Regions from separate parts of the Homo sapiens genome. Here all the other regions are linked to region 3. Evidence: fine-mapped expression QTL. A gene starts in region 3. Each other region holds a variant in brackets. All regions are shown on one strand. Distances are from middle to middle. Region 1 has its middle 45 kb from the start of RFPL3. Region 2 overlaps BPIFC (BPI fold containing family C). Region 3 holds the start of SLC5A4 (solute carrier family 5 member 4).

Region 1 (4,000 bases), 58 kb before region 3:
TCCATTTACAACTTGACCCCTGATTTCTCTTCATTTGCATTTGTTATGCTTCTGCTCATCCTTTTTATGAATTGTGGTAGAATGCACATAACATATAACCATTTTAACCATTTTTAAGTATACAGTTCAGGGGCATTAAGTACCTTCTCACTGTAGGGCAACTGATATGGTTTGGCTGTGGCTGTACCCAAAGCTCATCTTGAATTGTAACTCCCACAATTCCCATGTGTCATGGGAGGAACCCAGTGGGAGGTAATTGAATCATGGGGGCAAGTCTTTCCCATGCTGTTTTCATGATAGTGAATAAATTTCATGAGGTCTGATGGGAATTTTCCTGCACAAGCTCGCTCACTCTCTCTGTCCCTTTGCCTGCCACCATCCACATAAGACGTGACTTGCTCCTCCTTGCCTTTCACCATGATTGTGAGGCCTCCCCAGCCATGTGGAACTGTAAGTCCAGTTAAGCCTCTTTCTTTTGTAAATTGCTTGGGTATGTCTTTATCAGCAGCATGAAAATGGATTAATACAGCAGCCATCACTGCCATCTATCCACAGAACTTTTAAAAAAATCATCTGCCCATCCTTTTACATTAAACTTTTCTGAATCATTCTTGATTTGCCTAAGGGTGTCCTTAATTTTTTTAAGAAGGGGTCATGGGAACTATAATTCAAAAATATGTTCAACATGTTTTTCTGTTGACTTTATATTTGAAAGATGGTTCATTGGGCTTTAAATTCTTGGTTCATTCATTTATTTGATAAACATTATTAAGCCCCTACAGTATGCCAGTTACTGTCCTAGGCCCTGGCAATGCAGCAATGTGTAAAACACACAATCACCTTAACCCTCTTGTAGCTAACTTTCTATGTGGGGAAGACAAACAATAAATTATTCAAGTAAGTACAATAGGTGGTATGCTGGATAGAGGTGTGTGCTATGGAGAAAAAAAAGTCGGTGATGGAGAGTACCTGGCTTTGTTCTGTGAAGCTGAGGAGATGGCCCCACGGAATCTCTCACCCTTAGCCCCTGTACACATTCCCACTGATGCAAAGAGTGGAGAGTAGGTTCTCCTTCTTGGCGTATCTCTCACTCTGGGGAGGTGGGCTTTGCTGGCTTTGTCGGAGCCACTCCCTTGACTTCTCCATTTGCCCAAAAAACATGTAGTTTGGTTGAAGATGGTTTATCAGTTAAGAACTGTCACCAGTTGCAATTTATGCAAGTAAAGGAAATTTGACTGCAGTGGTGTGGAGGGGGCAGTCCAGGGCTGCCACCAGAACCCAGTTTCTCCCTGCCTTCTACTCCACCTGTGTTAGTGAGCATCCTTCATTCTCATGCATGCAAGATAGTTCATCTTCCCCTGGATTTATGTCCCCTTCCCAATAGACTCCCACTTACATGACATTGGCCAGACTGGGTCATGTGACCACCCCTGCTTGCAAGGGAGTCTGGGAAGGTAAGTAGTTGTGGCTGGGCAATTGCTCTTGTAATAGACACAGGGCAGTGGGGTTCATGCTGCCTGCCACAGATGGAGTTTGTATTTCTTTTCCTCATTGTCTTGTTTGCAACTTGACTCTGCCATTCAAAGCTATAAGTGCCCAGCAGACCTGTTTCCACACTGTAGATCTTGTTCCACTGCTCTCCTGGCTCTTCCCTATTCCAGGAGCATCTTGGTATCTTCTCTATAGCTTTGTATGACATGGTCATGGTCATATCTTAGTGTCATTCCAAAATACAGGATCGTTTTTGTCAGTATGAATGGTATCTGTATCTGTGTTTAATATTTAGTTTGTTATAGCAAGGGTGACAGTATAATTTATCATCCAAATCAGAATACTTTTGAGGGTAAAAGGGGAACAACATTAAAAATTATGTCAGAACAACAAGTGTCAACTGAGACTGTCCCAAGCCATGACATATAATTACCCTAGTAACTGCTGAGGTCAATGCACACTGTTGCATTTTATAAATTGATCTGATGTCTTACAGGTTGACTATTATACCTCTATGTATGCACTCTCCATTCTACTAATTAACCTGTTGATTCTATTAAATTTTCTATGTAAGTTATCCACAATTAACTGTAATTTTGGTTCTTCTATTCCAGTCCTAGTCTATGCTTTTTTTTCTTGCCTTATTGCATGAGCCAGAGCTCTAGTACTATATGGAGCTATAATGATAGCGACATTTTTGTCTCGCTTCCAGTCTTAAAGTCACATGGTTCACAACGTTCAGAAGACAAAACCCATGTGTTCAGAGGAAACCTGGATTCTTCTGGCACTGAGGCCAGAGAGAAATGTCCCCAGTGAGTCCCCATTGAGGAGACACCATGTGATATTTTTTTTCCTTGTATTTCCTCCAGAAAACCCTTTTGCTGTGCCTCAGGATGGGGGAGATGAGATCTGAAATACCCAGTGCAGCCTCCGAGAAGGACAACTTCTACAGAGATGCCAGGGACAGCCGAGGTGGTAGAGAAGG[G/A]AATGCTGCCTGTGCCCAAAGCCCCCTTCTGCGGACTTCTAAGATTACGAGCAAACTCAGGGGTAGGGGCTGGGGGTGCAGGGGAGGGGATTCTGAGCCACCTGTCCACAAGCGATAGTCCTGTTTTGGGCTGGTGGCTTCTGAGAGGTGACTCATTGTGGCCTCAGGATGACCAAGACAAAGCAACTCTGGCTGATTCCAGCCAGGAGGATTGAGGCCTGTGAGTTATACCTGTGGTTGAAAACCGAAGCTTCCCTTGCCCCTGCTCCCTCCAATAGCGGCCCCTTGGGGCTATTTGTGTCAGAATATTGAATGTGCGTGTGTGTGTGTGTGTGTGTGCGCGCGCGCGTGTGATTTGGGGTGTTCTTGTTTGGTTGGTTGGTTTTTATTGGGGCTTCCCCCCTCAAGTTCTCTGATGGGCGCGGGTTACCTTCTGGCTGGGGGTTCTCATCCGTGTCAATGTTCAGGCTGCAAGCTTCTTGCTAAGCACAGGGTACAGCCCCTCTGTGTCTCAGGGAGCACTGGGGATTTGAAAATGCCAGTCAGGGTTGGTTCTTACAGAATTCATTCCTGTAACAAAAATACTCAGGGACGCATCTCAGGCTGACCACAGGGCAGGTACCAAGTTAAGTGTTTTCATGCACTCTCCCTCTCACCACGTGGGAGGCAGGTATGATTAACCCCCTGCAGAAAAAGCTGCAGAAAAAGCTCACAGTGGGGAAGGGGGGTGCCCAGGCGCCACATGGCCAGGAGGAGACCAACCCCTCGTTTGACCTCAGGGGTGCAGGAACCCAAAGTCCAGGCTCCAACTCCCTGGACATGACGTGATCCCCAGCCAGGGCACACCCTGCACAATGCCAGGAGCATCTCCTTGATGCCTCCACAGGCTGTCGCCCTGAGTTCTCCACCATCACCGCCGAGAGCGCTGATCCACTCAGCACATTCTGGCTAAGCACCTGCTGTGCGCCAGGCCCCATGCTGGGCAGTGATGGGGACAGAAGATGAGTCAGACCTCATCTCTGCCCCTGGGGAGCCTCCCATCTGGTGGGAGACACAGACACATGGATCTTTGCTGGGCAGGGTAACGAGGCTATGGAAACCCAGAGAGGAGGGTTCTAGAAATCCACCCGCTTTGAATTGGGACTTCCACATAAGCCTAGATGCCCGTAACATCCACCCACAGAGCTAATCACCTCCACTCCTGCCCCGGGGCACCTATGAGATGGATGGCATCACCTAAATGATCACAAACATCTCCAAAGGCCACGCTGCCAGTGTAGACACACTCATTCCATGGGTGTTAGTGATACCAAATCTCCCCCAGTTCTTAGCTCAGGAGGCCCTGCTTAATAAACATGTGTGTCCTCTGACCCAGTTTCCTCATTTCATCAGACCTAGTGTTCTCACACTGACTGCCCATCCATTCACCAGACACAACAGTGAGCAAGGCAGGTCCCTGCTCACTGTGCTGGCTTTCTAGCTGGGGCGGGAATACAGTGAAGGTGGCAAGGGCGGCGAGTGTTC
Region 2 (4,352 bases), 170 kb before region 3:
GATTCTCCTGCCTCAGCCCGCCAAGTAGCTGGGATTACAGGCGCCTGCCACCACACCTGGCTAATTTTTGTATTTTTTAGTAGAGATGGGGTTTCACCATGTTGGCCAGGCTGGTCTCAAACTCCTGACCTCAGGCGATCTGGGGCCTCGGCCTCCCAAAGTGCTGGGATTACAGGCGTGAGCCACCATGCCCAGAAATACAATGTTTTGTTTGTTTGTTTGTTTGTTTAAAGTAGTATGGTTTCCCAGAAAGAAAAGGTTTTACGAAGGTTTACTCGCATTTACCAAGCCCTTCAAAGCAGTCCTGACTTCTTCATTAGCTTCCTTTAGGCACAATAGGCACAGTGCCTAGAGCCACAATACTTTAAAAGCCCATGAGAGGCCGGGCAGGGTGGCACACACCTGTAATCCCAGCACTTTGGGAGGCCAAGGTGAATGGATTGCCTGAGCCCAAGAAGTCGAGGCTGCAGTGAGCTATGATCTCAATCTGGGCGACAGAGCAAGACCCTGTCCAAAAGCACACACACACACACACACGCGCGCGCACACACACACACACACACGTTTTAATGTATTTTAAAATAATAATTTTTAAAAATGAATACAATTTAGACTTGATCATACTTATCTTTATATCAAATAGTTATAAAATATAATTTTCATTTTTTTTAACAGAAGAAAGGTCCCCAAAGACAAAAGTGCCTCAGGCCTCCAGAAGTCATGAGGTGACCCCATTTCCAGGGAATCAGGCTGATGAAACTCTGAACCATGAAGAGTGATCTTTATCTGGCAGTTCTTTTTTGTTTTGTTTTGTTCTGTTTTGTTTTGAGACAGAATCTCGCTCTGTCACCCAGGCTGGAGTGCAGTGGCACGATCTGGGCTTACTGCAACCTCTGCCTCCCAGGTTCAAGTGATTCTCCTGCCTCAGCCTCCTGAGCAGGTGGGACTACAGGCGCACGCCACCACGCCCAGCTAATTTTTGTAGTTTTAGTAGAGACGGGGTTTCACCATGTTGGCCAGGATGGTCTTGATCTTTTGACCTCGTGATCAACCCACCTTGGCCTCCCAAAGTGCTGGGATTACAGGTGTGATATTTGGCAGTTCTAATACAGAGGATGAAAGCCAGAGAGCATGAGGGTGAGGGGGGAAGGAACCAAAGGTGAGAAATTGGCAGCATCTGAGATCGGCCACGAGCGGAAGGAAGGAGAGAATCTGGATAGCATTGCCTGAGCATCGGGACCGTGATGCTCAGTCTGTTGGGAAACAAAGAGGAAAGAACCAGGAGGAAAGGAAAGGCTGGAAATGGGGAGTGATGCGGGGCGGGGCACAGGGGCAGGGCTGCTAACTGAGGCAGAAGGTTCCTAGAGAAGGTAGAAACAACACTTGCATCTGAGCAGGTGTCTGGTTTACTGGCAGGATCTCAAGGAAGAATTTAATCATGATTCAACTTCAGGGTTGTGGCAAGAAGGTGCAAAAGACTTTAAGAAGCATGGAGACCAGGTTCACTTTTCTGCTTAAATCAAACTGAGCCTTATCTCTAATGTTTCTATAATACTAGTAAGCAACAGCACGTTCAATGGCTGTTATGTTTATTTATGGGAGTAATAGAAAAAACTGTTTTAAGCCGATAAATTTACATCATCCCGGAAATGTGTGAATTCATTCTCTTGGCTTCCTACAGTCCACAGAGTTCTTTGACCTCATGAACATGAACCCTGAAATTAGGACCTCTGGCTTGTTGTCTGTTGCCCAGCAGTCTCCTGGAAATTCTCCGCTGGGCAGACTTCTGGTGCTCTGATGCCTTAGCTGGGTCTGAGCAGGGCTGGCTACATAATTTGCAGGGCCCACTGCAAAATGAAAATGCAGAGCCTCTTTTCAAAAGGATTAAGAATTTCTTTTTTCTTTCTTTCTTTTTTTTTTTTCAGACAGAGTCTTGCTCTGTTGCCAGGGCTGGAGTGCAGTGGCACGATCTTGGTTCACTGGAGCTTCTGCACCCCGGGTTCCAGTGATCCTCCTGCCTCAGCCTCCTGGGTAGCTGGGATTACAGGCGTGTGCCACCACACATGGCTGATTTTTGTATTTTTAGTAGAGACGGGGTTTCGCCATGTTGGCCAGGCTGGTCTCGAACTCCTGACCTCAGGTGATCCACCCGCCTCGGCCTCCCAAAGTGCTGGGATTACAGGCGTGAGCCACCGTGCCTGGTCAAGAATTTTAAGATAGAGATGGCAAGGCATTAAACCAAGCACAGGGGGCTTCTAAGCACAAGTGAGGGTGTCTCCTGCATGGGGTGTTATAGCAAACCTCAGGCAGTGAGCAGGCTGGGGGCAAGGCAGGTGGGCTGGGCCTCACTCAGGTTTAAAGCAGCCAAACCAGGAGGCAAGACTTTGCAGAGGAGCCAAGGCTGTGTTGAAATGACAGCCCTGGGCTCTGGCAGTAGGATCCCTAGCCCTGCCTCCCATGCAGGCTGCCCCAGCTGGCTCCTCCACTCCTGGGCTCCCCAGGCTTTTCAAGATGAGCTGGTTTGGTCTTGGGTGATATCAGAGAGATGCAGCAGGAAAAGGATCAAGTGGGTGGAGATCAGTGGAACATCCCTGAGAAGAACCAGGGAACAC[G/A]GGGGCTCCAAATTACTCTCCCCAGAACAACATGGCCTCTCTAACTATCCCCTGCCTGAATGTGCCTCTTCCTGGAGCTGCTCGGGGCTGGCTGCATAGACAGCAAATACAGAAATCAGAGACAAACCCCGTGTTGGTGGTCTAGACAGACTGTAGGATCACAGGCTTTGGAGTCAGACTAGCTGGTCTGGTTCTGATCCCAGTGCTGCCACTAATTAGCTCTGGCATCTCAGGCGAGTTTCTTAACCTCTCTTGGACTCCATTTCCTCCTCTGTAAAATGGTGTAATAAAGACTACTTCAGGAGAAGGTTGTGAGAAGTATGAGAGTTAATACAGGTAAAGTGTGTGGTTGCCATTCAATAGCTCTGTGATCTTGGGTGTAAGTTATTTAATCTCCATAAAGCATAAAACGGGAATAATAGTACCTACCTCCAGGACCATTCATTTAATCTATTGACCATTATTGTGCACTGTTCCAGGCCCTGGAGACACGGAGTTGTAAGGTTTAAATGAAATGACAGAGGCACCGGGCTTGGCACGGGACCTAATAGACGGTAAAGGCCCAATAATAAAGAATAGTCATGAACTGTACCAAAAAAAGACTATTTCTTAGCTGTTGGCTTTGACTATGATTTCAAATTTAGAGATAGCCTCAGCCAGGACAAGGAGGTGCTCAATCGTACAAGATCATTTCCAGAGTCCCCTGATTCAGAATACACTTCGCTCCCCTGTATCCTGCCCATGGATAGCTAAGAAATAGTCCTTTTTTGTATAATTCATGGCTATTGTTTATTATTGGATCTTTGTCATCTACTAGGTCCTGTGCCAAGCCCAACACCTCTATTATTTCATTTTAAATCTTACAACTCTGTGTCTCCAGGGCCTGGCACAGTGCTCAATAAATGTCAGTAGATTAAATGAACGGTCCTAGAGGTAGGTACTATTATCCCCATTTTACAGTTTGTAGAGATTAAATAACTTACTGAAGGTCACAGAGCTATTGAATGGCTGAGCCAGAACTTGAACCTGGGTGAGTCCGCTTTCAAAGCAGTGAGTATTTACTTACCACAGTATACTGCCTTTGATGTAGTGAAGAGCTTTGACTTAGAAAATAAGGCAAGGCCAGGCGTGGTGGCTCACGCCTATAATCTCAGCACTTTGGGAGGCCGAGGCAGGTGAATCATCTGAGGTCAGGAGTTCGAGACCAGCCTGGCCAACATGGTGAAACTCCATCTCTACTAATAATACAAAAATTAGCTGGGCATGGTGGTGCATGCCTGTAATCCCAGCTACTCTGGAGGCTGAGGCAGGAGAATCGCTTGAATGCAGGAAGCGGAGGTTGCAGTGAGCCGAGATCACACCACTGCACTCTAGCCTGGGCGACAAGAGCAAAACTCCGTCTCAAAAAAAAAGGAAGAAGAAGAAGAAGAAGAAGAAGAAGAAGAAGAGGAAGAAGAAGAGGAAGAAGAAGAGGAAGAAGAAGAGGAAGAAGAAGAGGAAGAAGAAGAGGAAGAAGAAGAAGAAGAAGAAGAAGAAGAAGAAGAAGAAGAAGAAGAAGAGAAGAAGAAGAAGAGGAGGAGGAGGAGGAGGAGGAGGAGGAGAAGAAGAAGAAGAAGAAGAAGAAGAAAGAAAATAACACTTAAGATTTAGGAAATAAATACCTTTATACCCTTGCCTGGAAGAGGAAACCCATAAGCATGGAGTCACGCTAAGTTGAAACAGGCAGCATGCCCTTTTTCA
Region 3 (4,000 bases):
AATGAAGTTAGCCAGGCATGGGTGGCATGTGCCTGTGGTCCCAGCTATGGTGGAGGCTGAGATGGGAGGATCACTTGAGCCCAGGAGGTTGAGGCTGCACTGAGCCATGCTTACCTCACTGCACTCCAGCCTGGGTGACAGAATGAGACCCTGTCTCTGAGAAATAAAAAGGAAATTCTACAATTCAACAGCAACAAAAATACAACATAAGGCTATTCTGGGTACACTGCCAATGAGGTAGTCCTGCTCCACAAGGAGCAGTGTAAAAAAGAATACAACATAATTTTTAAATGGATGAAGAAGTTGAATATATCTCTCTCCAAGAAGATGCACAAATGGCTATAAGCACATGAAAAAATCAACACTACTAGTGATTGTGTTAGAAGTGTAAATCAAAACTATATTGTGATACCCACTTGATACCTACTAGCCTGTCTATAATTAAAACATAAATGACAAGTATTGAAGAGGATATGGAGAAATTAACTCTCCTATGCACTGTGGAAAGAATGTAAAATAGTGCAGCTGCTGTGAACAACAGTTTGGCAGTTCTACAAAAAGTTAAACACAGAATTATCACATGCAATTCCACTTCTACATATAGACTCAAAAGAATTGAAAGTAGGGATTCAAACAGATCCTTGCACACCAGTGTTCTCAGCAGCATTATTTATAATAGCCAAGTATAGAAAGAACCTGAATGCCCATCAACAGTTGAATGGATAAACAAAATGTGGTATATATGAGTATTGGAATATTATTCAGCCTTAAAAAGGAAGGAAATTCTGATACATGCTACAATATGGATGAACCTTGAAAATGTCATACTAAGTGAAATAAACCAAAGAGGAAAATATTGTATGATTTCATTTGTATGAGGTACCTAGAATAGGCAAATTTATATAGTAAGAAAGAATAACAGAGGTTACCAGGGCCTGGAGAGAGGGAGGGATGGGGAGTTAGTTTTTAGTGGGTACATACTTCTGTTTGGAGATGATGAAAAAGTTCTGGAAATGGATAGTGGTAATGGCTGCATAACACTGTAAATGTACTTAATGCCAATGAATTGTACACTTAAAAGGGATTAAAATGGTAAATTTTATGCTATGTATGCTTTGCCACAATAAAAAATGAAGTATAAAAGAAGAATTTCTGGGCTTTCCGTTTTTTCATGTGTGTTTTTGGTTTTGTTTTTTTGTTGTTGTTTTTTTTGTTTGTTTTTGAGACAGGATCTTGCTCAGTTGCCCAGGCTAGAGTGCAGCGGCGTGATCATGGCTCACTATAGCTTTGACCTCCCAGTCACAGGTGATCCTCCCTCTTCAGCCTCCCAAGTAGCTGGGACCATACGTGTGCATCACCACACTCAGCTAATTTTTATAGAGACAAAGACTCCCTATGTTGCCCAAGCTGGTCTTGAACTCCTGGCCTCAAGTGATGCTCTCTCCTTGGCCTCCCAAAGTGCTGGGATTACAGGTGTCAGCCACCGCATAGGCTTTACTTCTAACTTCTTCTTGGCTGTAGTCCAGGAGTCTTGTTTCCTGAGTCCTCATGATCCCCATCACATGCTTCCAGGTTGATTCACTCTTTGTACAACCCTCTGACCCAGCGCTCTCCACAGCTCTGCCCTCAACTCACCACATATGGTGCTTGAAGAGCCACTTCCTTTCCTATACAGGCCACCAATGTCTTTTTGTGGCACATGAAACCCACTTCAGAGAAATGTGGGACTTTGGAATCCACGAAAGGCATAATTCACTTCACTGTCAAGGGATATAGCTCATTGGTCAGAAACTGTATCTGTTCTCTGAAGGACCATTGCATTCGGTCCCTCCTGGCTGGTTTCTGGTACCTTCTAGTCTGTCCTTCTCCCCTCCTTGTCTGTCTTCATTTCTCTCAAATCCCCCCTCCACCTGGGCAAATCTCTTTAAAGACCCTGTCTTTGCACTCAGAGAACGCCCCATGCTCCACCTCAAATTCTCCCCTCATTTCTGGCCCTGCATCCCTCATTCTCACACTCTACCTAGGCTAGCACTCACTGGTGGAGGGCTGGGGTGCCACAGCTTTGGAGAAGAGGTTTAAAGGTCTCCATATCCAGGAGCTGGCTCTGATATCTCGCCCCACCTGCCTGAGGCTGATCATTAACCCAGAACTTATATAAAGATGGCTCATGCGTGGAATGGGTATAGCACTGCCTGCAGCCATGGCCAGTACGGTTAGCCCCAGCACCATAGCTGAGACCCCAGAGCCACCTCCATTGTCTGACCACATCCGAAATGCTGCTGACATCTCAGTCATTGTCATCTATTTTCTGGTGGTGATGGCTGTTGGGCTGTGGGTAGGTGGAATCCCAGTGGCTTTTAGGGTGGGCACAAGGTTTAGGAGGGGGTATCTTAAGGGGGGAAGGGGTGTGGTTGTGACAAAGCTTTTCACAAATGTCATTGTGTTATCAGAATCATTTTCTTGTGTGTTGCATAAATAACGCTTACAATGAACTAATGTATTCTCCTAATAACCCCATCGTGTGCACACAGCCAGCACCGGGACCTTCAGATTTACTATGCATCCCCAACACCTGGCATAATGGACAAAGAGTGTATTTTTATTATCGCATTTCTTTCGCTTTCTTTTGTTGTTTGCTCACTTTCTGATTTAGTGAGTTGGACTCTTCATTTATGTTGAATTTTTTTATTTTAATAAATTTGAGACTGCAAATTTTTTTTTTTTTTGAGACGGAGTCTTGCTCTGTCGTCCAGGCTGGAGTGCAGTGGCGCTTGCTTGGCTCACTGCAAGCTCCGCCTCCTGGGTTCACGCCATTCTCCTGCCTCAGCCTCCCAAGTAGCTGGGACTACAGGCATGCGCCACCACGCCCGGCTAACTTTTTGTATTTTTAGTAGAGACGGGGTTTCACCATGTTGGCCAGGATGGTCTCGATCTCTTGACCTTGTGATCCACCCGCCTCGGCCCTCCAAAGTGCTGGAATTACAGGCGTGAGCCACCGTGCCCGGCCGAGACTGCAAATTTTATTGCAAGCATGGCTCAATGATACCTCACATGGTTTTCATAAGTGAGAATAATCAGAGCAGTTAAGATAGAAGTTAAGGATTATGATTTTTTTAAGTTCTTCCAGCCCTGGGTTTTTACAAAGCGACTGTTTTTGAAGTCCTTTAAAATTTGATGCTATAGAACACTTTCCAGCGAAATGTTTCTCTCTGTAGGAGTGCTGAAGTCACCCCTCTCAGCACCCTGGCCAGAGCCTCTGGGGTGTCTGGGTGCACTTGCTGGGGCTTGACCCTCACCTGTCTTCCCTTCTGCTCAGGCGATGCTGAAGACCAACCGAGGTACTATAGGAGGCTTCTTCCTCGCTGGTCGTGATATGGCCTGGTGGCCGGTAAGTGGATCGAAGTTTTCTGGAGATAAATTTCCTGTGTGTGTGCTTAAAACTGAATGTAGGCTGGGTGCGGTGTCTCACGCCTGTAATCCCAGCACTTTGGGAGGCCAAGGCTGGCAGATCATCTGAGGTCAGGAGTTCGAGACCAGCCTGACTAACATGGTGAAACCATCTCTACTAAAAATACAAAAATTAGCTGGACGTGGTGGTGTGTATGCCTGTAATCCCAGCTACTCAGGAGGCTGAGGCAGGATAATCACTTGAACCTGGGAGGCAGAGGTTGCAGTGAGCCTAGATCACACCACTGCACTCCAGCCTGGGCAACAAGAATGAAACTCCATCTCAAAAAAAAAAAAGTGAATGTAGACAACATTGGGAATGTTGATCATTTCTGATGTACATTGGTTGCCTACTCGCTGGGGCTCCTTTCCTAAATCCCCGACTTCATGGCTCCTCTCTGTAATTCCAGGACATTACAATATGTCACCTATTATGACAGCCGGTTCAGTCTGGCACTGAAGGACCCCAGCTCAGCCCCACCTTATATTCTTTTCTTCTGCTCCTTATCAAGAGTCTTCTCCTGGCTTCTTACAAGCTCTGCGCATTCCTGCT

Evidence for each region.
Region 1: its variant is fine-mapped to the expression of SLC5A4 in sun-exposed skin (GTEx, PIP 0.94).
Region 2: its variant is fine-mapped to the expression of SLC5A4 in cerebral cortex (GTEx, PIP 0.97).

The regions. Positions count from the first base shown.
Region 1 is chr22:32,311,181-32,315,180 of GRCh38, reverse strand. It overlaps a transcript of SLC5A4 not described here. Among named protein-coding and RNA genes, the nearest start is that of RFPL3, 45 kb to the left of the region's middle. The variant G/A (reference allele first, on the strand shown) is at 2,477.
Region 2 is chr22:32,424,462-32,428,813 of GRCh38, reverse strand. The region is part of intron 13 of BPIFC (BPI fold containing family C); the gene reads left to right. Among named protein-coding and RNA genes, the nearest start is that of RTCB, 14 kb to the right of the region's middle. The variant G/A (reference allele first, on the strand shown) is at 2,613.
Region 3 is chr22:32,253,530-32,257,529 of GRCh38, reverse strand. SLC5A4 (solute carrier family 5 member 4) reads left to right here and starts at 2,183. Exons shown (of 15, transcript NM_014227.3): 1 at 2,183-2,335; 2 at 3,317-3,388. The coding sequence starts at 2,201. The region is part of intron 2 of SLC5A4-AS1 (SLC5A4 antisense RNA 1); the gene reads right to left.